Regions from separate parts of the Homo sapiens genome. Here region 1 is linked to region 2. The links come from fine-mapping of genetic effects on gene expression. A gene starts in region 2. The other region holds a variant in brackets. All regions are shown on one strand. Distances are between the middles of the regions.

Region 1 (8,000 bases), 960 kb after region 2:
CAGCCTCCCAAGTAGCTGGGATTATAGGCATGCGCCACCACACTCAGCTAATTTTTAGTATAGACGGGGTTTCTCCATGTTGGTCAGGCTGGTCTTGAACTCTTGACCTCAGGTGATCCGCCTGCCTCGGCCTCCCAAATTGCTGGGATTACAGGCTTGAGCCACCACGCCAGCCAATTTTTATTTATTTTTGAGACAGAGTCTCACTCTGTTTGGGCTGGAGTGCAGTGGTGTGATCTCGGCTCACTGCAACCTCTGCCTACTGGGTTCAAGCGATTCCCCTCCCTCAGCCTCCTGAGTAGCTGGAATTACAAGCTTGCACCACCACGTCAGAGTAATTTTTTTTGTTGTTTTGAGATGAAACCTCGCTCCGTTGCCCAAGCTGGAGTGCAGTGGCGCAGTCTCGGCTCACTGCAACCTCCACCTCCCAGGTTCAAGCAACTCTCCTGTCTCAGCCTCCCAAGTAGCTGTGACTACAGGCACACACCACCATGGCCAGCTAATTTTTTTTTTTTTTTTGGAGACGGAGTCTCCATCTGTCGCCCAGGCTGGAGTGCAGTGGTGCGATCTCGGCTCACTGCAACTTCCGCCTCCCGGATTCAAGCGATTCTCCTGCCTCAGCCTCCCGAGTAGCTGGGACTATAGGTGCCCACTGCCACCACTGGCCGTGCTGCCCAGGCTGGTCTCGAACTCCTGAGCTCAGGCAATCAGCCTGCCTCGGCCTCCCAAAGCGCTAGGATTACAGGTGTGAGCCACTGTGCCCAGCCATGCCTGGCTAATTTTTTTTTTTTTTTAGTAGAGATGGGGTTTCACCCTGTTGGCCACGGTAGTCTCAAACTCCTGACCTCAGGTGATCCACCCACCTTGGCCTCCCAAAGTGCTGGGATTACAGGCATTAGCCAACACGCCAGGCCTTAATATTTGTATTTTTTGTAGAGATGGGGTTTCACCATGTTGGCCAGGCTGGTCTCAAACTCCTGACCTCAAATGATCCCCCCATCTTGGCCGCCCAAAGTACTGGGATTACAGGCATGACCCATCGTGCCCAGTTAATTTATTAGAAATAGTATTAATTAGCCAGCCACAGTGGCTCACGCCTATAATCCCAGTACTTTGGGAGGCCAAGGCGGGTGGATCACGAGGTCAGGAGTTCAAGACCAGCCTGACCAACATGATGAAACCCTGTCTCTACTAAAAATACAAAAATTAGCTGGGCGTGGTGGTGGGCGCCTGAAATCCCAGCTACTCGGGAGACTGAAGCAGAATCACTTGAACCCAGGAGGCAGAGGTTGCAGTGAGCCGAAATTGTGCCATTGCACTCCAGCCTGGGCGACAAGAGCAAGACTCCATCTAAAAAAAAAAAAAAAAAGTATTAATTCATTTAATAGTCTGAAGAGGTATTATTAAGAGGAAAAGGAAGCATAAAGAGGTTAAATAAGTTGCCTGAGATCATACCTAGTGCATAACAGAGGTGGAATCTCTTTTTGTTTTGTTTTGTTTTGTTTTGTTTTTGAGACAGAGTCCTGCTGTGTCACTCAGGTTTGAGTGCAGTGGCGCAATCTCGGCTCACCGGCAATCTCTGCCTCCCGGGTTCAAGTGATTCTCCTGCCTCAGCCTCCCAAGTAACTGGGATTACAAGCATGTGCCACCATGCCTGACTAATTTTTGTATTTTTAGTAGAGACAGGGTTTCACCATGTTGGCCACGCTGGTCTCGAACTCCTTTCCTCAAGTGATCCGCCTGCCTCGGCCTCCCAAAGTGCTGGGATTACAGGTGTGAGCCACCGCGCCTGTCCCAGTGGGAAAAACTCTTAACTTCAAAACATATTATTATATACAGTGATCTTAGATTTCTTTCTTTAGAAAATGGGGACCTGGAAAGAAATCTGAGACGGAGGTGAGGGAAGGTAAACAGATGGGAAGAATGGGAGTTCTCAAAGTCTGGAGTCTATCTCTAGGACACATTTTGAAGATACTGGTGTCAATGCCTTCCAGCCAAGGACCACCAGGAACATACCAACAGTTGAGCAAGCTGGGCTTATTCATTACAGCTAGAGAATATGCACACCAGGGGAACTAAAGGCATCTCAGCAAATGTGTTAGAACTTATTATAGTATCTAAGCTTTGTTTGATTGGGTGATTTTGGGGGAGGATCCAAGGAAACAGAAGTTTGCTCCAGATTTCATGCTGTCAGAAAGCAAGCACAATTCTATGTTTCGGTATCTCAATAAATTATTCTTTCTTTCTTTCTTTCTTTCTTTCTTTCTTTCTTTCTTTCTTTTTTTTGAGATAGGGTCTCACTCTGGCACACAGGCTGGAGTGCAGTGGTGCAGTCTCAGCTCACTTTAGCCTCAACTTCCTGGAATCAAGTATCAATAAATCTTATCTACAGGGAGGGTAAACTAGTGCAAGGCTGAAGCCATGATTGGTAAAGAAGTTGCAGTCACTCATATTAACCTGGAGAGAAGGATGTTTGGTATTTTGTGGGTGGCAGTGACACTAATTTTGTCTGTAAGCAGACAAAATTAGGCAGTGGACTTGTTTTGTATCATTCTATCATGGTTTTGGAGTGAACTTGTTTCATGTTGATGTTCTGTGAGGTGTCCAAAAGAATAGTGGCTGGGCACGGTGGCTCATGCCTGTAGTTCCAACACTTTGGGAGGCTGAGGTGGGCAGATCACCTGAGGTCAGGAGTTCAGAGACCAGCCTGGCCAACGTGGTGAAACCCCGTCTCTTCTAAAAATACAAAGATTATCCGGGCGTGGTGGCAGGCGCCTATAATCCCAGCTACTCAGGAGGCTGAGGCAAGAGAATCGCTTGAACCCAGGAGGCGGAGGTTGTAGTAAGCAAGGATTGCGCCACTGCACTCCAGGCTGAGTGACAGAGTGAGATTCGGTCTCAAAACGAAAACAAAAACAAATGGAGATAGCACAGACTAGCTTCAAACAACACTGAGGACCAGTTGTGTCAGACCAGTTTCCTAATGTCAAGGGCAGTGTTTTGCTTTCTCATTGTAACCCCCAGGAGTGATTAAGATCTTCGTTTAGAATCTGCAGGATTGGCCGGGCGTGGTGGCTCATGCCTGTAATTCCAGTACTTTGGGAAGCCAAGGCGGGTAGATCACTAGGTCCGGAGTTCAAGACCAGCCTGTTCAACATGGTGAAACCCCGTCTCTACTAAAAATACAAAAATTAGCTGGGTGTGGTGGTGGGCGCCTGTAATCCCAGCTACTCGGGAGGCTGAGGCAGGAGAATCTCTTGAACCCGGGAGGCTGAGGCTCTAGTGAGCAGAGATCGCACCACTGTGCTCCAGCCTGAGCAACAGAGTGAGACTCTGTCTCATAAAAAAAAAAAAAAAAAAAAAAAGAATCTGCAGGAATGCAGGCCTCCATTGTGGATCAGCACTCTTCAGAGTTGGTGATTTTTTTTTTTTGAGATGG[G/T]AGTTTCGCTCTTGTTGCCCAGGCTGGAGTGCAATGGCGTGATCTCGGCTCACCGCAACCTCCGCCTCTCAGATTCAAGCGATTCTCCTGCCTCAGCCTCCCAAGTAGCTGGGATTACAGGCATGTGCCACCACGTGCAGCTAATTACAGACAGGGTTTCTCCATGTTAGTCAGGCTGGTCTCGAACTCCTGACCTCAGGTGATCCGCCCACCTCAGCCCGGCAAAGTGCTAGGATTACAGGCGTGAGCCACCGCAAAGGGCCGATTTTTTTTTTTTTAATTGTTGAGAACTTGAGAATCTAGTGACTTGAGTGAAGTCAGAAGGTTGTATGGGCCAAAAAATCTAGTTTCTTGGTTGATAATCAAAGAGTACTTGAGATTATGGATGCTAAATGGTTAATCTGGATTCTATGCCCCTGGCTTTGGGCAAGTTACATAGCTATTTTACACCTTGTTTTCTTTATCTGGGTATAATGATATGTAATAATAATAGCTCACACCTGAAGCCCTTACAGTGTAACCCCACTGTTCTAAGCATTTTACATATATATTTATATATAAGCTTATTAATCCTCACAACAATCTACTGCTTTTATCTTTTTCTATTTATCTTTATTTATAAATGAGGAAACTGAGCACAGAAAGGTTAAGTGGCATGGCCAAAGCTACAGTTAGTAAATGTCAGAACAGACGGGCAGTGTGTCTTAGTCAGCTCAGGATGCCATAACAAAATACCACGGACTGGGTGGCTGAAACAACAGACATTGGTTTTCTCAGAGTTCTGAAGCTGGAAGTCTGAGATCAAAGTGTCAGCGTGGTTGGATCCTGGTAAGGGCCATCTTTCTAGCTTGCTGACTGCTGCTTTCTCACTGTGTCTTGGGAGGTGGGAGAGGGAGATCTCTTGTTACAAGGCCACAGTCCTATCCAGTTAGGGCCCCACCCTTGTGAACTCATTTAAACTTAATAACCTCCAAAGGCCGGGCGCGGTGGCTCACGCATGTAATCCCAACACTTTGGGAGGCCAAGGCGGGCGAATCACTTAAGGTCAGGAGTTCGAGATCAGCCTGACCAACATGGAGAAACCCTGTCTCTACTAAAAATACAAAATTAGTATTTTGTGGTTAGGCGTGGTGGCGCATGCCTGTAATCCCAGCTACTCAGGAGGCTGAGGCAGGAGAATCGCTTGAACTTGGGAGGCAGAGGTTGTGGTGAGCTGAGATCGTGCCATTGCACTCCAGCCTGGGAAACAAGAGAAAAAGTCCGTCTCAAAAAAAAAAAAAAAAGCCTCCGGAACACCCAATGTCCAGATACAGTCACACTGGGGGTTAAGGCTTCAACATAAGAATTTTGAGTGGGGACACAATTCAGGCCATAGCACAGTGAGAGCATAGAATCAGATAGTAGCAAAAAAACCATGATTTTAGGTCAAGATAACAAATAAAAATTGTTACTAAAAGTTATAAAGGAGTTATCCTTAATTTGGAGCACATATACAGGGGTGTGTAGACAAGTGGGATAGAAAAAGCAAATATTAAAATTGTTATTTATATTTGTCACCCATTTAAACATACATATTTTGTTTTATAATGACAATTTATTAGTACAAAAACAAGTCTATATATAATTTTTTTAAATGCACACAAATACTATTGGGGTAGTGGCTCAACTTTTTTTTTTTTTTTTTTTTTTTTTTTACTAAGATAAGGGTGTAATCACTGCAATAAAATAAAGACAGGTATCACAATGGCCCTGCCCTCAAAGAGTTACAGTGTACTGGGGACAGAAGGCTAATCTTTTTAAAGTGTGGTTAATAGATCACGGTAGATGAATACATATTATAGATCAATTCGTGATTATATGTCCCAAATAACCCGTAGAAATAATAACTGTCATGAAAGGAGAAGCCACGTGCTCTATTTGTCCACAGGCTGAGGACCACCTTGCTGCGGTTGACCGCTGCTGGCCGGGACCTGCGGGTCGCGGAGGAGGCGGCGCCGCTCTCGGAGACCGCAAGGCGCGGGCAGAAGGCGGGATGGCGGCAGCGCCTCTCCATGCACCAGCGCCCCCAGATGCACCGACTGCAAGGGCATTTCCACTGCGTCGGCCCTGCCAGCCCCCGCCGCGCCCAGCCTCGCGTCCAAGTGGGACACAGACAGCTCCACACAGCCGGTGCACCGGTGCCGGAGAAACCCAAGAGGGGTGAGATTTAAGGCTACATCCCCTACAGGGCTAAGACACTGGGAAGGACTGATGTGCCAGCCACGTTTTCCTCACTGCCTTCTTCTGCCCACCACCCCATTTTGTTCTTTTGTTCTCACTCCCTCCTTTCTGCCTCCCTAAAATCTTTATTTCCTGAGTTGGGATATCAGATTCAAAATTCTAAATTCACCATGGAGTGTCGCTGAGGGCAGAATCAGACAACAGGTCAGGAGATGGAGACCATCCTTGTCCAACATGGTGAAACCCCGTCTCTAATAAAAATACAAAAATTAGCTGGGCATGGTGGCGCGCACCTGTAGTCCCAGTTATTCGAGAGATTGAGGCAGGAGAATCACTTGAACTCGGGAGGCGGAGGTTGCAGTGAGCTGAGATTGCACCACTGCAGTCCAGCCTGGCGACAGAGCGAGACTCTGTCTCAAAATAATAATAATAATAATAATAATAATAATAATAATAATAATAATAAAAAATTAGCCAAGCCTGGTGGCACATGCCTGCAGTCCCACCTACTTGGGAAGCTGATGTGGGAGGATCGCTTGAGCCTGGGAGGCGGAGGCTGCAGTGAGCCCAGATGGCACCACTGAACTCCAGCCTGGGCAACAGAGTGACACTCTGCCTCAAAAAACAAACAAAACAAAACCCCCAAAAAGAAAACTCAACGTTGAATCTCTAGAGTAGACACCTCATTCTCATGGCCCTAAATCAGGAATGAGTAACCTAGGTAAAGGAAATCTACACACAGCATTTCATTAAGTACTCTTATTTTATTAGTAAGTACTCACTTATTTTGCTTAGTGTGGTCCTATAATTTCAAGTTCCATACTCCAGACAACCAAACGCATGCAAAAACAACTGAAAGTAGAAAACTTGCATGAATTTAAATTTCAGTTCCATTTAACAGTTCAGCATAGCTGGCCACCTGTTATGTACTGGGCACTAGATACAAAGATGGTTAGAGTTAGACACACAGTCTCTGCCCTGGACAAGCTTCCACCTTTCTTTTTTCTTCCTATTTGTACTTACTCACTTGAGGATCTATAGTCTGGCTGACTTTAGTTGCAGTTTTTTGCAAGAGTAAAAAAAAAACTGCTCCTCGGGGACCATTTGTCATACAAGGGTTTCACCCAGGTCTCAAGACTCTATGCCCAGCCCTTCATGTTCCAGTTTCAGTACTTGGTGTTCCGGAGGGTACTGTTGCCCGAGTCTGCATCTTCTGTCTAAACTTTTAGGGCCAAGGGACAGGCTGAGCTACACAGCCCCTCCATCGTTTAAGGAGCATGCGACAAATGAAAACAGAGGTGAAGTAGCCAGTAAACCCAGTGAACTGTGAGTTCTTCTCATTTATCCCATGTTGTTATTCCTGCCACTTTAATTAGAAAGACATCATTTAGGGAACAAATGAATGTTGGTGATTTGAGTCTTTTCAGCATGATCAGGGAAGATGAAAGTCGACCCTAGGTCAAATTCCAACTTCATTGCTTAAAAGTGGAAAACAAGCGTCTCTCTGTTCTCTGAGGAAATGAAAATAAAGGTCCATTTCTCAGTTGAAGGTATTCCCTCTATTTACATTTATATTTTTTTCCTTAGGTCATAATTCCTTTGTTGTGTTTTTTTTTTTTTTTTTTTTTTGAGATGGAGTCTTGCTCTGTTGCCCAGGCTGGAGTGCAGCAGCGTGATCTTGGTTCACTGCAACCCCTGCCTCCCAGGTTCAAGCAATTCTCCTGCCTCAGCCTCCTAAGTAGCTGGGACTACAGGCATGTGCCACCATGCCCAGCTAATTTTTGTATTTTTAGTGGACACAGGGTTTCACTATGTTGGCCAGGCTTGTCTCCAACTCCTGACCTTGTGATCTGCTCGCCTTGGCCTCCCAAAGTGCTGGGATTACAGGTGTGAGCCACCACGCCTGGCCCATAATTCCTTTATGTTTTGTTTGACATTTGAAAGCTGTATTTTATAAGATTTTCCTCGACATGTACCAAGGTTACTGATTCACTTAATTTCTTTTTATATGTGTAAGAACCCAATTCTAAACTCCTGTAACAACAGTTTCTAAGTATCCTTTTTGTATTTAGTGTTTCTGGTTCTAACAGCATAATTTCTTTCAGCAGTGTCATAAGTATGGCTAAACCCATTGGTCTATGCATGCCTAACAGTGCCCACATCATGGCCAGCAATACCATGCAAGTGGAAGAGCCACCCAAGTCTCCTGAGAAAATGTGGCCTAAAGATGAAAATTTTGAACAGAGAAGCTCATTGGAGTGTGCTCAGAAGGCTGCAGAGCTTCGGTAAGAGTGTGGCACTCCATGCCTCAAACCAAAACGAACTGAAAAAGCTAAGAGAT
Region 2 (16,054 bases):
AAATTAATTAAAAAACAAACTAATAAATAAGTGACCCAGTTTCAGGTATTCTGTTATAAGCAACAGAAAACAAACTGAGACAGCAGCCATCCAACTTGACAGCCCAAACTCAACCACCACATTGCACTGCTTCCTATATTGTGTGATTTCAGAAAACCTTAGAAAGTACAATATTCTTTTCAAATTCCCATTAAATATCTAACATTTCTTTATGATATTCTGTATTCCAGGCTTTAATACTTATAATAATCCATGATGAAATTCTCTTCAGCTGGTAACATCAAAATTTTGTGCTCTGTAAAATAACTTTGAAATTGTTTAAAAGTCGATAGATTCCTGGGGCCAGGTGTGGTAGGTCACATCTGTAGTCCCAATACTTGGTAGGTGGAGGCAGAAGGAGCGCTTGAGCCCAAGAGTTTGAGGGCAGCCTGGGCAGCATGGTAAAACAACTGTCTCTACAAACAATAAAAATAAAAAATTGCCAAGAGTGGTGATGCCTCTATAGTCCCAGCTACTAAGGTAGGCTGAGTCGGGAAGAGAGCATGAGCCCAGAAGGTAGAGGTTGTAGTGAGCTGTGTTTACACCACTGCACTCTAGCCTGGGCAACAGAGTGAGACCCTGTTTCAAAAAAAAGTAGATTCCTGGGACACACGTTCAGAGATTCTAATTCAGTGGGTGGGACTCAGGAATATGTATTTTAATAAGCACCCTCAGGTACTTCCGGTAGATTTGAGGCTCACCCTTTGGAGAACACCAACTGAATGACTATCGTTTAAGGATGTTATCACTGAAAGGGTGGTGGGGTTGAGGGATAAGGACTACATGCTGAGTACAGTGTACACTGCTCTGGTGATGGGCGCACTAAAATCTCAGAAATCACCAGTAACCAAACACCACCTGCTCCCCAAAAACCTATTGAAATAAAAAATAAATTTAAAAAAAGGAAAAAAGGGATGTTATCACTGCTGAAGTGAGTAAACTCTTGGAAAAGGCAGCACTCTAAAAATTTCATTTATAATTTATTCAAAATGAAGAATTGAGAATGGCCATTTGTCTGTAATTAAAAATTAAGCATCTCCTTTGCAAGTTTACATTTGGTTATCCACCCTGGAGAACTATTGTGCTCAAATGGGCATGTTCAAGGAAGGATGTTCCTTGTAGCACTGGTTATGACAGCAAAACAATTAGAAACACCCATGTCTATTCAAAGATCATTAAATCATGATACAACTATTCCTTGGCGGCAGGGGTGGTTAATGGGTACAAAAAAATCGTTAGAAAGAATGAATAAAACCTACTATTTGATAGCACAATAGGGTGACTATAGTCAATAATGACTTAATTGTACATTTTAAAATAACTGAAAGACTGTCCATGGATAAAGGTTTCAGGGGATGGATACCCCATTCTCCAGGATGTGTTTATTTCACATTGCACATAAAACATCTCATGTGCTGGGTGCGGCGGCTCACGCCTGTAATCCCAGCACTTTGGGAGGCCAAGGCGGGTGGATCACGAGGTCAAGAGTTCAAGACCAGCATGACCAACATGGTGAAACCCTATCTCTACTAAAATATACAAAAATTAGCCGGGCATGGTGGTGTGCGCCTGTAATCCCAGCTACTCAGGAGGCTGAGGCAGGAGAATCGCTTGAACCACGGAGGCGGAGGTTGCAGTGAGATGAGATCGCACCATTGCACTCCAGCCTGGGTGACAGAGCGAGACTCAGTCTCAAATAAATAAGTAAATAAATAAATATCTCATATACCCCATAAATTTATACACCTATTATGTACCCACAACATTTTTTAAATGATACAACCATTCTATGAGATACTACCCAGTAGTTAAACAGAATGAAGTAAATCTGCATGTACTGACATGAAAACATCTCCAATGCATATGAAGTGAAAATAGCCAAGAATAACACCATGTAATATGCTCACATTTATGTAACACTTCTCCCCCCCCCCACAAAAAATGCAAAATAGAATAATTCTGTATGTGCACATTTTTGCAAGTAAATGAAAAGAAAATAGTCTGGAAAGAGACACACCAAACTGCTAACAAGTTACTCCAAGGAGAAGGATTGAGGGAATTAAGGGAGGAGCTTTTTGGTTTTGAATATCTGCAATGTTTTACGAGAAGAATGTGTTCGTGTTTAAAAAATAAAACAGTACCTCTCCACAAAATAAGGGTAGAGATCCAAGAGTAGGTTTCAATTTAGAGGGGAGAAGAGAAAAGTAGGAGACCCCAACCCCCTAAGGCAGCAAAGGACAGGCTTCAAAGGCTAAATGGACACCACATTGAATGCCTATCCCCCAAGTTGAACCTAGGACTCCAGAGATTGGGCCTTCTACATGTTCAACACCTCCTACCCCAACTCTGAGCTACTACTTTCCCCCTTTTAATACGTCTCAGAACTCTCTCCATTTTAAATTAATATCTCTTGAGGATCCTTTCCTTCCAAAGTTGTAGCAAAGTAGAAGGTTCTCATCAACATCCCTTTCCTAGCTATTCCTGAAGACATGTATGCAAATTCCTTTAAATGGTGGTCCTGATCCGCAGCTTTGCTGATCACTTTTGGAAAATTGGCAAATAATAAATTTGGAAATTTGTTTATAACATCAGGCAATATAATATATAAATAAATATAAATAAGTTTGGAAACATATTTATAACATCAGGCAATATAATAAACCATACTTGTGGAATTTCAAAGCTTTTAAAATCTTACTAGTTTCCTTCAATTACTGATCTTTTTGATTCTGAATTTCTTTTTTAAACAACTCTCAAGATCCACCTCTTTGAATAAGGTAGGAAAGAGAAATCCTCAAGACAGTGAAGTTCAATAAAGTCTCACCTTTCCTTCAGAACCCACCCTCTTTTTCAAGTCATACCCCTTGCTCCTTGACACCCTGTCTTATTTAGTATCTCATTCAACAAATATCATTGAAAGCTAGATACTGTTCCAGGCATTGGTTACAGAGCAGGAAACAAAATACACAAAGCCCTGGCTCACTTGGAGCTTACAGTCTATTGGAGAGAGTCAGATCTCCTAAAAATTAAACAAATATATGTTAAGTTGTAATTAGTACTCTGGAAAAAAATAAAGCAGAGTAAGAGGCTACAAGTGATAATGGGAGTGATGTTATTTATATCAAGGAAGGCACCACTGCTACTAAGAACAAAGACCTGAAGAAAGTCAGGGATCAATCTTGTTAGCTGGAAGAAGAGTAGACCAGGTAGAGAGAACAGAAGCCTGTAGGGAGAAGAGTGACTGGTATGTTTGAGACAAAGTGGAAAGAGGCCAGAGTGCCTAACAGGAGTAAGCAAAGGGAAAAATAGTAGCAGATGAAATCAAAGCACTGGGGTAAGAAGCAGATCATATAGAGCCTGGTCAAGCCACAGCATTTGAGATGGGGAGCCACTGGAACAAAAATCTAACATGATCTAACTTTCATTTTATTTATTTATTTTTAAATTTATCTTATTTTTTAGACAGGGTCTTACCCTATTGCCCACACTGGAGTGAAGCAGGGGAATTGCTTGAAACCCGGAGGCAGAGGTTGCAGTGAGCTGAGATCACACCACTGCACTCCATCTGTAAAAATAAAGTAATTCTAGATAACGTGATGTCTTATCAGAAAATACTATAGCATGCTTTTTTTAAAGAACTTTTTTTTTCCTTTTGAGAAAGGGTCTTACTCTATCACCCAGGCTGGAGTACAGTGGCATGATCACAGCTCACAGCAGCCTTGACCTCTCAGGCTCAAGTGATAAATTATACAGCTAATTTTTGCACTTTTTGTAGAGTCGGGTTTCGCCATGTTGACCAGGCTGGTCTTGAACTCCTGGGCTCAAGCAATCCTCCTGCCTGAAGTTCTGACTGCTGAGATTACAGGCATGAGCCCCCACACCTACCCTAAAGGACATTTTAAAATCATAACTAGAATATCATTATTTTAAACCTAACTAGAATACCATTATAATATCTAATAAATAATTCCCTAAAATCATCCAATTTCCAGTCCATATCCACATATCCCCATTTATTGCTGGCTTGTTCAAACCAGCATCCAAACATTGCATTTGGCTGTTAGGCTTCAAATGTCTCTTTTACTCTAAAACAGTCCTAACAATTTTTTTTTTACATAATAGTATGAAGAGAGTAGGCCAGTTGTCCTGTCGAATATTAATTTGTATTTTTCATACTATGTGAGCCTGAATATCTTTTCCATGCACTTATTTATCAAATGCAAACTGTTTATTAATATCTTTCATCCACTTATCTATAGAGGTTTTGGTTTTAATTATGAAAATAAATTTGTTGGTTTCTTCCAGGCTTTTTTTGTTTTTGTTTTTCAGACAGAGTCTCGCTCTCGTCACCTAGGCTGGAGTGCAGTGGTGCGATCTTGGCTCACTGCAACCTCCGCCTCCCCAGTTCAAGCTTCTCCTGCCTCAGCCTCCTGAGTAGCTAGGATTACAGGCACCCACCACCATGCCCAGCTAATTTTGTGCTAGAGAGGGGGTTTCACCATGTTGGCCAGGCTGGTCTCGAACTCCTCACCTCAGGTGATCCGCCTGCCTTGGCCTCCCAAAGAGGTGGGATTACAGGCATGAGCCACCGCACCCAGCCGGTTTCTTCCAGTTATTGGTGACATGCTTCAGTACTATTTTAGTTACACTTGTTCTGTATTTGACTATAAAGAAGTTATATCTTCACAATATATTTTCAGTAATTCTCACTCTGACCACCATAATAACTAAAAAAGAAAAAGAATCAATAAAAACTTTAAAAATACATTTTTAAAAATGTGTGTGGGATGGTAACTACTGTCATGAAACAGAATACATTAGCCTAGTAGATAACAACATAATTTGGAGTCACCCAGATCTGGCCCTGCCTTTTAGGAACTGTATATTATGAGCTGAATTGTGTCACCTCAAAATGTATGTATTTGAAGAACTCTCATTATCTCAGAATCTGCCTGTATTTGGAGATAGGACATGTAAAGGGGTAATTAAGATAAAATAAGGTCATACGGGTTGGGAATAATCCAATATCACTGATGTCCTTATAAGAAAAGGAGATTAAGGGCCAGGCACCGTGGCTCACGCCTATAATCCCAGCATTTTGGGAGGCTGAGGCGGGTGGATCACTTGAGGTCAGGAGTTTGAGACCAGCCTGGCCAACATGGTGAAACCCTGTCTCTAATAAAAATACAAAAATTAGCCAGGTGTGGTAGCCCACGCCTATAGTCCCAGCTACTCAGGGGACTGAGGCAGGAGAATCGCTCAAGAACCTGGGAGGTGGAGGTTGCAGTGAGCCGAGATCTTGCCACTGCACTCCAGCCTGGGCAACAGAGCAAGACTCTGTCTCAAAAAATAAATAAATAAATAAAATAAAGGAGATTAGGACATAGATGCACAGAGAGGAAAGACAGCATCCATCTACAAGCCAAGGAGAGAGGGAGGCAGGCCTTAGAAGAAATCAGCCATGTCAAGACCTTTACCTTGGGCCTCTAGCCGCCAGAATTACGACAATGTATGTAGTTATAGCAGCCCTAGCAATACACTGTGTGATCTTGAATAAATTAAATTTTTCTAAAGCTCAGTTTCCTCAACTATAAATGGAGATAATAACATATGCCTCATGAGGTTGTTGTGAGAATTAAATAATGTATGTAAAGCTCATAGCATAGTAAGAACTAAATAAATTCTGGCTATTATTCTTATGAAGATTAAATGAGGTTATGCATGTAAAGCATTAGCTCAGCCTCTAGTACACAAGAAAGTTCTACTAAGTATTAGCTATTTTTAATAAATTTTCATTTCATAAAGGCTTATATTTTTCCTATCTCCAAAGTATTTCCTTTTAGACCTAGTCTAATTTATTTGTGTCATAATTAAGTCAGATGTAACAGGCTTTGTACCGCTGAAACAGGTTAAGCAATCCTATCCAACAACATTTATTGAGCACTTACATTTTGTTAGATTTATTTCCAACTACTTGATATGCTTTGGTGTTATTGTAAATGCTACCTTATCCAAAAATTTTATTTATAGTTGTTTGAAGCTCTTTTATAAGCATGGAATTTATTTTCACACGCTATTTTCTATCAGTCTTGCTAGGCTTTGTATTAAGGTAAAATTTTTATCCTGTAGTTTCTTCTAGCTTTTAAAATATTCATAATCAAATTACATGCAAATAATGAGATTTTGGGTTTTTTCTTTCTAAACTTTACATCTTTTGATGAACAAAAATTAAAATGTATCAATTTTTTTTTCTTTGTTTTTTTCAGACGGAGTCTCACTCTGTCACCCAGGCTGGAGTTCAGTGGCGGGATCTCGGCTCACTGCAACCTCCGCCTCCCGGGTTCAAGCGACTCTCGTGCCTCAGCCTCCCAAGTAGCTGGGATTACAGGCGCCCGCGACCACGCCTGGCTAATTTTTCACTTTTTTTTTTTTTTTTTTTGTAATAGAGACGAGGTTTCGCTATTTTGCTCAGGTTGCTCTATAACAGATACTATGCTATCCTAACAATATGTTTCTAAATGATATTAGTGCCAAAACCAGGATTACCCAGTGATTTTGTTAATACAGGCTTATTGAATCGGAGGGTCTGGGGTGGGGAATTTGCTTAAGTATGCAGTCCCCATACTCGGTGATTCTCATGAAGCCAAACATTTGGGCGCCCCTCACCTGATGTCACCAAGAACCAGAAGACCAATTAGAATTTTCGTGGGCTTCCTGCCCCATGGTTCCCTCTGTTCCCAAAGGGTTTCTGCAGTTTCACGGAGCTTTTCACATTCCACTCGGTTTTTTTTTTTTTGAGACTCGCTCTGTCGCCCAGGCTGGAATGCAGTGGCGCGATCTCGGCTCACTGCAAGCTCCGCCTCCCGGGTTCACGCCATTCTGCTTCAGCCTCCCAAGTAGCTGGGATTATAGGCGCCCGCCACCACGCCCGGCTAATGGCTAATTTTTTGTATTTTTTTTTTTTAGTAGAGATGGGGGGGGGTTTCACCGTGTTAGCCTGGATGGTCTCGACCTCCTGACCTTGTGATCCGCCCGCCTCGGCCTCCCAAAGTGCTGGGATTATAGGCGTGAACCACCGCGCCCGGCCCGGTTTCGTTTTGTTTTTTTTTTTTTTTTTTTTTTCCAAAAATGGGCGGAGGAGAGTAGTCTGAATTGGGTTATGAGGTCCCCTGCGGGGTACCTCACCTCAGCCATTGAACTCACTTCGCTGGCCGTGAGTCTGTTCCAAGCTCCGGCAAAGGAGGCATCCGCCGGGCCCCTCCCCGAAGGGCGGGGTCCACGGCATCTCCTGCCCAGTCTGACCTCGCGCGGAGCCCCGTTCTCTGGGAACTCACCTCCCCGAAGCTCAGGGAGAGCCCTGTTAGGGCCGCCTCTGGCCCTAGTCTCAGACCTTCCCAAGGGACATGGGAGTGGAGTGACAGGACGCACTCAGCTCGTGGCCCCACTGATGAGCTTCCCTCCGCCCTATGGGAAAAAGTGGTCTCATACAGAACTTATAAGATTCCCAAATCCAAAGACATTTCACGTTTATGGTGATTTCCCAGAACACATAGCGACATGCAAATATTGCAGGGCGCCACTCCCCTGTCCCTCACAGCCATCTTCCTGCCAGGGCGCACGCGCGCTGGGTGTTCCCGCCTAGTGACACTGGGCCCGCGATTCCTTGGAGCGGGTTGATGACGTCAGCGTTCGAATTCCATGGCGGCGCGGCGGCGACGGAGCACCGGCGGCGGCAGGGCGAGAGGTTCGGAGCTCAATATCGCGGGACGGCATGCGGGGGGCGGGCAGTCAGAAAGGAACGATGCCACCTACTGTGACCCCCTTCCCCTTCCAGCTCCCTATAACCTGCACTTGGCTACCAAACCAGTTGGGGTGCTAAATTTTGTAAATTTCGGTTTTCAGAGCTTTGGGGATTACATAATTGTGCATAAAGCCTTGCGGAGCTGTAACAACTAATGTGCCAGTACTGTTGTTAATACCTAATGTCATCCAATTTACAAAAAGTAATTGTAAGGCACACCATTATTTTATACACAACAAAGGATAAGCACTGAAAATGGTGAACTGTGATTCACTGCTTATGTCATCCATTGTAAGATGCATCCCAGTTCCAGAGAGTAAAATGCGAGTCTTAGACCTATTGAGATACGGTATTATGTGTATAATGTTCTTAAATGCATAGGTGCACCCTATAAATTAGGTTCTATTGTACTTCTCTAGAAGTACAGTATTGTACAATATTCTAATATTGGAGTAAGTGAAGTAGGAAGAGATCAAATACTTCTCCAAGTTTCCACAGAGAAAAGCAGCAGAGCTAGGCTCTAAATTAGGCACAGACCCTTGAGCACTTAACTAACCTTTATCCCATACGGCCTCATGTATGAGGTGGGTATTTGGGGGACATTGGGACACAAGTAAAACAGATAAGCAGGCCTCAATCTATGAGCTTACAAGACTCCTGGGACTCCCTTTTATTTTGTTTTATTTCATTTGGCTAGAATAGCAATTTAGGAAGAATTACACAGACTGTTACACAAAAGTAGTGTGGGACAGTTGTTATTGCCTCTGTAAACTTAGAAAATTATCTTAAACCGGCGGGGTGAGGTGGCTCACGCCTGTAATCCCTTGGGAGGCCGAGGAGGGCAGATCACTTGAGGTCACGAGTTCGAGACCAGCCTGGCCAACATGGTGAAACCCTGTCTCTACTAAAAATACAAAAATTAACTGGGCATGGTGGTGCACGCCTGTAATCCCAGCTACTCAGGAGGCTGAGGCACGAGAATCACTTGAACCCAGGAGGCGGAGGTTGCAGTGAGCCAAGATCGCACCACTGCAGTCCAGCCTGGGCGAGAGAGTGAGACTCCACCTCAAAACAAAAAAAGAGAGAAAATTATCTTAAACCATTTCTTTAAAAGATTTTTTTCAATCTTTAAAATCTACACGTATTCGGGTGTGTACTCATTCTTTGCTAATTTCCAAATTCTGTAGCATTAAATGAAAGCAAAAGAGTTAATAATGGCAACACGGCTCCAGAAGACTCTTCCCCTGCCAAGAAAACTCGTAGATGCCAGAGACAGGAGTCGAAAAAGATGCCTGTGGCTGGAGGAAAAGCTAATAAGGACAGGACAGAAGACAAGCAAGATGGTATGCCAGGAAGGTCATGGGCCAGCAAAAGGGTCTCTGGTAGGAGTGGATCTGGGGATGATATCTTGTTATTTCAACTCCTATTTCGTCCTTCTTTCAGGGAATAATTAATTTCTCTATCCTTTGGGCATACCACAGCACTAATCTACTGCCTTGAATCTTCATTTTCATGTATTTGAGATGGATTGGGGTCTAAGGAAAGACCAGGATTGGTTGGGCGGGCAAAGTTAATCCTGACAAGTTTCTGTTTTACCACAACAGCTGTTTTTGATTCCCATAAAGTAGTACCTATCTGTCTTTCCTCAGAATCTGTGAAGGCCTTGCTGTTAAAGGGCAAAGCTCCTGTGGACCCAGAGTGTACAGCCAAGGTGGGGAAGGTAAGAGACTCTGGAACCGATCTTCAGTCCATGGATATCTCAGAGAGCATCCTTTGTTATAAGGACTCCTGTCTGGGATGCTGTTAGTACTCATTTTAGGAATCCTCTCCAAAATATGATGAGTGAGTAGTTTTCTCTAATGGCAAGAGATAGGAGTGGTAGGGCTTGGGGTTAATAATCAGGGTGTTTTTTAACATGGTGTGTTAGACCATTCTTGCATTGCTGTAAAGAAATACCTGAGACTAGGTATTTTATAAGAAAAGAGGTTCCTAGAGGCTGTACAGGAAGCATAGCAGTATCTGCTCCTCAGGAGACCTTAGGAAACTTTTACTCATGGCAGAAGGTGAAGCGGGAATAGGCACGTCACATGGCAAAAGCAGGGGAGAGAGAGAGAGACAGAGAGAAAGGGAGAGAGAGAGATTGGAGAAGGTGTCACAGAGAGAGAAAGAGAGAATGGGGAGGTGTCACACGCTTTTAAACTACCAAATCTTGTGTGAATTCACTCACTATCAAGAGGACAGCAGCAAGACAGTGGTGCTAAACCATTCATGAGAAATCCACTTCCATGATTGAATCACTTCCCACCAGGCCCCACCTCCAGTACTGAGGATTACAATTCAGCATGAGATTTGGAAGGAGACAAATATACAAACTATATCACATGCGTACCTTTTGTGGTTGCCATCAGCCTTCTACACCTCATTCTCTTTTTAAACCAGAAAATGGTATCATTGTTAAGGGAAAACTGTTTTCTTGTTCTAATGAGAAACTGTACCCTGGAATGGCATGAGTTACTGATGAATGGGGAAAAAAGAAGGCTACCTCTGGAATAAGTTTTCTTTAACTCAGTTAGAATCTTTTTTTTTTTTTTTTTTTTTTTTGAGATAGAGTCTCACTCGGTCACCCAGGCTGGAGTGCAGTGGTGTGATCTCAGCTCACTGCATCCTCCACTTCCTAGGTTCAAGTAATTCTCTTGCCTCAGCCTCCCAAGTAGCTGTGATTACAGGTGCCCACCACCACGCCCAGCCTGGGCTAATTTTTATATTTTTAGTAGAGACGGGGCTTCACCATGTTGGCCAAGCTGGTCTCGAATGCCTGACCTCAAGTGATCTGCCCACCTTAGCCTCCCGAAATGCTGGGATTGCAGGCATGAGCCACCATGCGCAGCCTAACTCAGAATCTTTTGTATAGTTAAAAAAAAGGAAGCATGTTTTCATTTATAGTAAGGTTACACCCAGGTTACTGGTAGAACATAGGTTTGCAATTCTTTCCTTGGGAGATGAATGTTGATGTTGCTGTAGAATGATGACTTGAGCCATAAGAAAATTTAGAGCCTCATTTAGGATGTCAGGGCTGAACCTATACTAATGTTGATTTTTTCTCTCTCTCCCTTTCTAGGCTCATGTGTATTGTGAAGGAAATGATGTCTATGATGTCATGCTAAATCAGGTAAGAGGCAAGAAGAGGTGGCACCATTATATTTATGAGACCATCTTCTTGATAATTATTGATGATAGCATCACAGTGTTCAGATCTTTAAAGTCCCTTTTTTTTTTTTTTTTAAATTTTGTTTTTTCTTTTTGAAATGGAGTCTCACTTCATCTCTCAGGCTGGAATACAGTGGCACAATCTCGGCTTACTGTAACCTCTGCCTCCCAGGTTCAAGCAATTCTCCTGCCTCAGCCTCCCAAGTAGCTGGGGTTACAGGCGTGCACCACCACTCCCAGCTAATTTTTTGTATTTTTAGTAGAGACAAGGTTTCGCCACGTTAGCCAGGGTCTGGTCTCGAACTCGTGACTTCAAGTGATCCACCCACCTCAGCCTCCCAAAATGCTGGGATTACCAGGTGTAAGCCACCACGCCTTGCCTAAAGTCCTTCATATGTGTGTGTGTATATATATATATATATATATATATATATATATATATATATATTTTTTTTTTTTTTTTTTTTTTTTTTTTTTTTTTTGAGACAGAGTCTTGCTCTGTCACCCAGGCTGGAATGCAGTGGTGCAATCTCGGCTCACTGCAATCTCTGCCTCCTGGGTTCAAGCAATTCTCCAGCCTCAGCCTCCCAAGTAGCTGGGACTACAGGTGCAGTGTCTGGCTAATTTTTTGGTATTTTTAGTAGAGATGGGGTTTCACCATGTTGGCCAGGCTGGTCTTGAACCCCTGACCTCAGGTGATCCACCCACCTCACCCTCCCAAAGTGTTGGTATTACAGGCATGAGCCACTGCGCCCGGCAAGTCCTTTATATTAATATTAGCCATTAGTGGTTAAACACCTGAGTACTCAGCCCTAGCACACTCTTATCAGATAGCAGAGTCCTCTGTGAGAAGATTTTTTTTTGCAAATTTCATATCATTTATTGAAATTGTTAACTCTCTGTTCATATCCTTTTGCACATTTTTTTTTTTTTTTTAAACAGACAGGATCTTGTTCTGTCACCCAGGCTGGAGTGCAGTTTGTACAGTCATAGCCCACTGCAACCTTGAACTTCTGGGCTCCAGCAATCCTCCCACCTAAGCTTCCTGAGTAGCTCGGACTTCAGGCGCATGCCACAAAGCCTGACTAATTTTTAAATTTTTTATGGAGATGAGAATCTCGCTATGTTGGATAGGTGGTCTTGAATTCTTGGCCTCAAATGATCCTCCTGCCTTGTCCTCATGAGGCACTGGGATTACAGGGATGAGCCACTGGGACAAGCTGTTTTGCACATTTTCTAAAGTTATTGGTCCTTTTCTTACTGGTTTCGAGGAACTTTATATAATATGGAGAATAGCCTTTTGTCTGTAATACAAACCACTTGTGTTTTCCAGATTTGTCATTTACCTTTTGGTTTTCCTTATAGTACACTTTTTGCCCATATTGAAGTTTTAAATTTTTTCTGTAGTTAAATTTATTAATTTTTCCTTTTTAAAAAATTTTGGGTTTTTTTTTTTTTAATTTTAGAGACAGTGTCTTGCTATGTTGCTCAGGCTGGCCTTGAACTTGTGACCTCGTGTGATCCTCCAACCTCAGCCTCCCAAGTAGCTGGGACTACAGGCATCTGCCCCCAAGCTCAGCTTTCTTTTTAATCAACCTTTTTCTCTTGTTTACCTTTGTGGTTTTGAGTAGATAATACATTTGCCTCATTAATATATTTCCTGGATATGACTTCATGTTTGAATTTATTGATCCAACATATATAATTTTAACAACCAATTAGTATTTATTTCTTACTATTTCTTCTACTTAAAATACCACGAGCAGATAGAAAATACCTTAAGGTTAGCCAGGTGCAGTGGCTCACGCCTGTAATCCCAGCACTTTGGGAGGCTGAGGCGGGCGGATCACCTGAGGTCGGGAGTTCAAGACCAGCCTGACCAATGTGGAGAAATCCCATCTCTACTAAAAATACAAAATTAGCCAGGTGTGGTGGCATATGACTGTAATCCCAGCTACTCGGGAGGTTGAGGCACGAGAATTGCTTGAACCTGGGAGACGGAGTTTGTGGTGAGCCGAGATCGTACCATTGTACTCCAGCCCTGGGCAACAAGAGCAAAACTCCTTCTCAAAAAAAAAAAGAAAAGAAGGAAAATACCTTAAGGCAGCCAGGTGTGGTGGCTCATGCCTGTCATCCTAGCACTTTCGGAGGCCAAGGCTGGAGAATCACTTCAGGTGTGAGTTCAAGATCAGCCTGGGCAACATGGTGAAACCTTGTCTCTACAAAAAAATACAAAAACACCGGGCATGGGCCAGCTACTTTGGAGGCTGAGGTGGGAGGATTGCTTGAGCCTGGGAGGTTGAGGCTACAGTGAGCTGTGATTGAGCCATTGCACTCCAGCCTGGGTGACAGAGGGAGACCCTATCTCAAAAAAATAAAAAATAAAAACCATAAAAACATTTACAAAAAAATTTTTTAAAGGAAAAGAAAATATCAAGCTGGGCATGGTGGCTTATGCCTAAAATCCCAGCACTTTGGGAGGCCAAGGCGGGCAGATCACTTGAGTTAGGGGTTCAAGACCAGCCTTGCCAACATGTTGAAACTCCATGTCTACTAAAAATACAAAAAAAAATTAGTCTGGCATGGTGGCGTGTGCCTGTAATCCCAGCTACTAGGGAGGCTGAGGCACAAGAAATTGCTTGAACCTAGGACACAGAGGTGGCAATGAGCGGAGGTTGCACCACTGCACTCCAGCCTGGGCGACAGAGCAAGACTCTGTCTCAAAAAAAGAAAATATCTTAGGCTCCTTTTTGTTCTAACATCTAATGACCTTTTTTTTTTCACCAGTGGGCTAAGGTCGTACAATGGCTTTAGAATGTGAGCAAGCAGGAGATAGAGGTAGGAAGGGGCAGCATGCTTAACAAAAAAGAATGCCTCCATATCCAGGGCTCGGCCATACAACACCAGCTGCTATGCCTTATCATGGACTTCTCTCTCTTCACTCTGAGTGATTTACTTACAGATACCTCTTTTTAGATACTGGCCATATTCTCTCTCAGTATCTCCAAGTCAGGTCAGGTTAGGTATGGGACGGATGTGGCAGTGGTTTTGCGTATCCCTTGTCCCCTCCCATTATTGCCCTGCTCTCAGCTCATTGTCAAATTTCTGCAGCTGACAAACAAAAGCTGTGAGTAGAACTGTCAAGGAGTAAGTCATTTAACAGTTGAGCATAACAGGTTTAGACCTTTGGAGCATCCAAATTGTTTTCATTTGGGAAATAATTATTGGGAGTGGATTGGGAGCTGGAAAACACATATAGCTTAGAAAATATCTAAATAGGGAGCTGAGGCAGGAAAAAACTGGAGGAGCCATTCAATGTAGGATATTTGAGGTTGGATAGAGGGTTTTAGGAAGCTTCTAGGCTCCCACTTTAATTCCTAAGAATCCAAAGTTTAATGTATAAGCCCTATTTCTTCTTTATATCTTTAATCTTACAGGAATCTAATTTTCTTGCCTGATGCTATCCTTTTCCTTATGGAAATAACTGGCACCTGTGACGAAGGATGAGTCATTGGTTTATGTGATTTCCATTTGCAAAACTCCTTTTTTTTGTTTTTGTTTTCACTCAACATAGACCAATCTCCAGTTCAACAACAACAAGTACTATCTGATTCAGCTATTAGAAGATGATGCCCAGAGGAACTTCAGTGTTTGGATGAGATGGGGCCGAGGTAATGATTTTTATTGAGATTTTATGAGTTGGCATTCAGAAAGTCAGAAGCAGCTTAGTGGGTGGCCAAAGGATTCTCTGGGTTTAAATTGGGTCAGTAGAGGCTCTGAAGTCTGGGAGAGCCTTAGGAATCAAGTTGAGCATCTTGAAATTGGGGAATGGCAGGCATCCTCCTTAGAGTTCCCACTGGAAAAACTAAGAGCAGCCCATTGAGTCTGAAAACTCTTCTATAGTTGAACTGCTAGTAGTGCTCATAGACTATGGCAGTTAGCAAGTAACTTGTATCAACATGATTAGTTCCCTAAATCCTTTCACCTTTCCCTTCTCCCTTTCCTGCCTGTTTGTCAGATGTTAAGCAGAGAGATCTTGGAGAGCTGGCCTGTTACTCTTAGGGAACTATCTTATGTGTGGCATTTCCTTTGCAGTTGGGAAAATGGGACAGCACAGCCTGGTGGCTTGTTCAGGCAATCTCAACAAGGCCAAGGAAATCTTTCAGAAGAAGTGAGTGCTGAAAAGTGACTACAAAAAAATATACCCTCCTCTTCTTAGATGTATATTCTCTAAAAAATTTTTTTTTAGACAGTTTCACTCTTGTTGCCCAGGCTGGAGTGCAATGGCATGATCTGAGCTCACTGCAACCTCCACCTCCTGGGTTTAAGTGATTCTCCTGCCTCAGCCTCCCTAGTAGCTGGGATTACAGGCGCCCACCACCACGCCCAGCTAATTTTTGTATTTTTAATAGAGATGGGGTTTCGCCATGTTGGCCAGGCTGGTCTCGAACCCCTGACCTCAGGTGATCCGCCTGCCTCAGCCTCCCAAAGTGCGGGATTACAGGCGTGAGCCACCGTGCCCTGCCTTCTCTAAGAATTTTATAAGTGTGTGGCTTATAAAAAACTTTTCGTTTTATAGGTGTGATTTGGCCTAAATGTTAATGTCTTTTCACCCTGACATTCTGTGGTTGAAACACCAAACTGCATCCTTAGTGATTAAATCAAACTAATACCTTGAAAGTCACTAAAAACAGAAGAATCTAATATATTTAACACATGACTGACAAATTTAGGAAATTTGGGATAAGTGGAGACTATCCTGGGATAGATAATATTCAACTAGGGGCTGAGCACGGTGATGCCTGTAATCCCAGCACTTTGGGAGGTTGAGGCAGGAGGATTGCTTGAAGCTAGGAGTTTGAGACCAGCCTGGGCAACAAAGCGAGACCCCTGACTCTCCCCCAAAAAAAAGGAAAGAAAAAAAGAGAATATTCAGTTAGAATTTTTAAAACTTTATGATATAGATGAAGAACTTTCTGGAGAATTGGAGAACATGTTTCTTTCAGG

Evidence for each region. PIP is the estimated chance that this variant, and not a neighbour inherited with it, causes the effect.
Region 1: its variant is fine-mapped to the expression of PARP2 in ovary (GTEx, PIP 0.97).

What each region holds. Positions count from the first base shown.
Region 1 is chr14:21,295,600-21,303,599 of GRCh38, forward strand. It overlaps RPGRIP1 (RPGR interacting protein 1), which reads left to right. Exons shown (of 25, transcript NM_020366.4): 4 at 5,367-5,638; 5 at 6,889-6,985; 6 at 7,732-7,944. Among named protein-coding and RNA genes, the nearest start is that of RPGRIP1, 20 kb to the left of the region's middle. The variant G/T (reference allele first, on the strand shown) is at 3,440.
Region 2 is chr14:20,335,905-20,351,958 of GRCh38, forward strand. PARP2 (poly(ADP-ribose) polymerase 2) reads left to right here and starts at 7,731. Exons shown (of 16, transcript NM_001042618.2): 1 at 7,731-7,783; 2 at 9,028-9,183; 3 at 9,490-9,560; 4 at 10,959-11,009; 5 at 14,622-14,718; 6 at 15,143-15,218. The coding sequence starts at 7,738. It also overlaps RPPH1. RefSeq lists enhancers at 6,614-6,713, 7,644-7,813.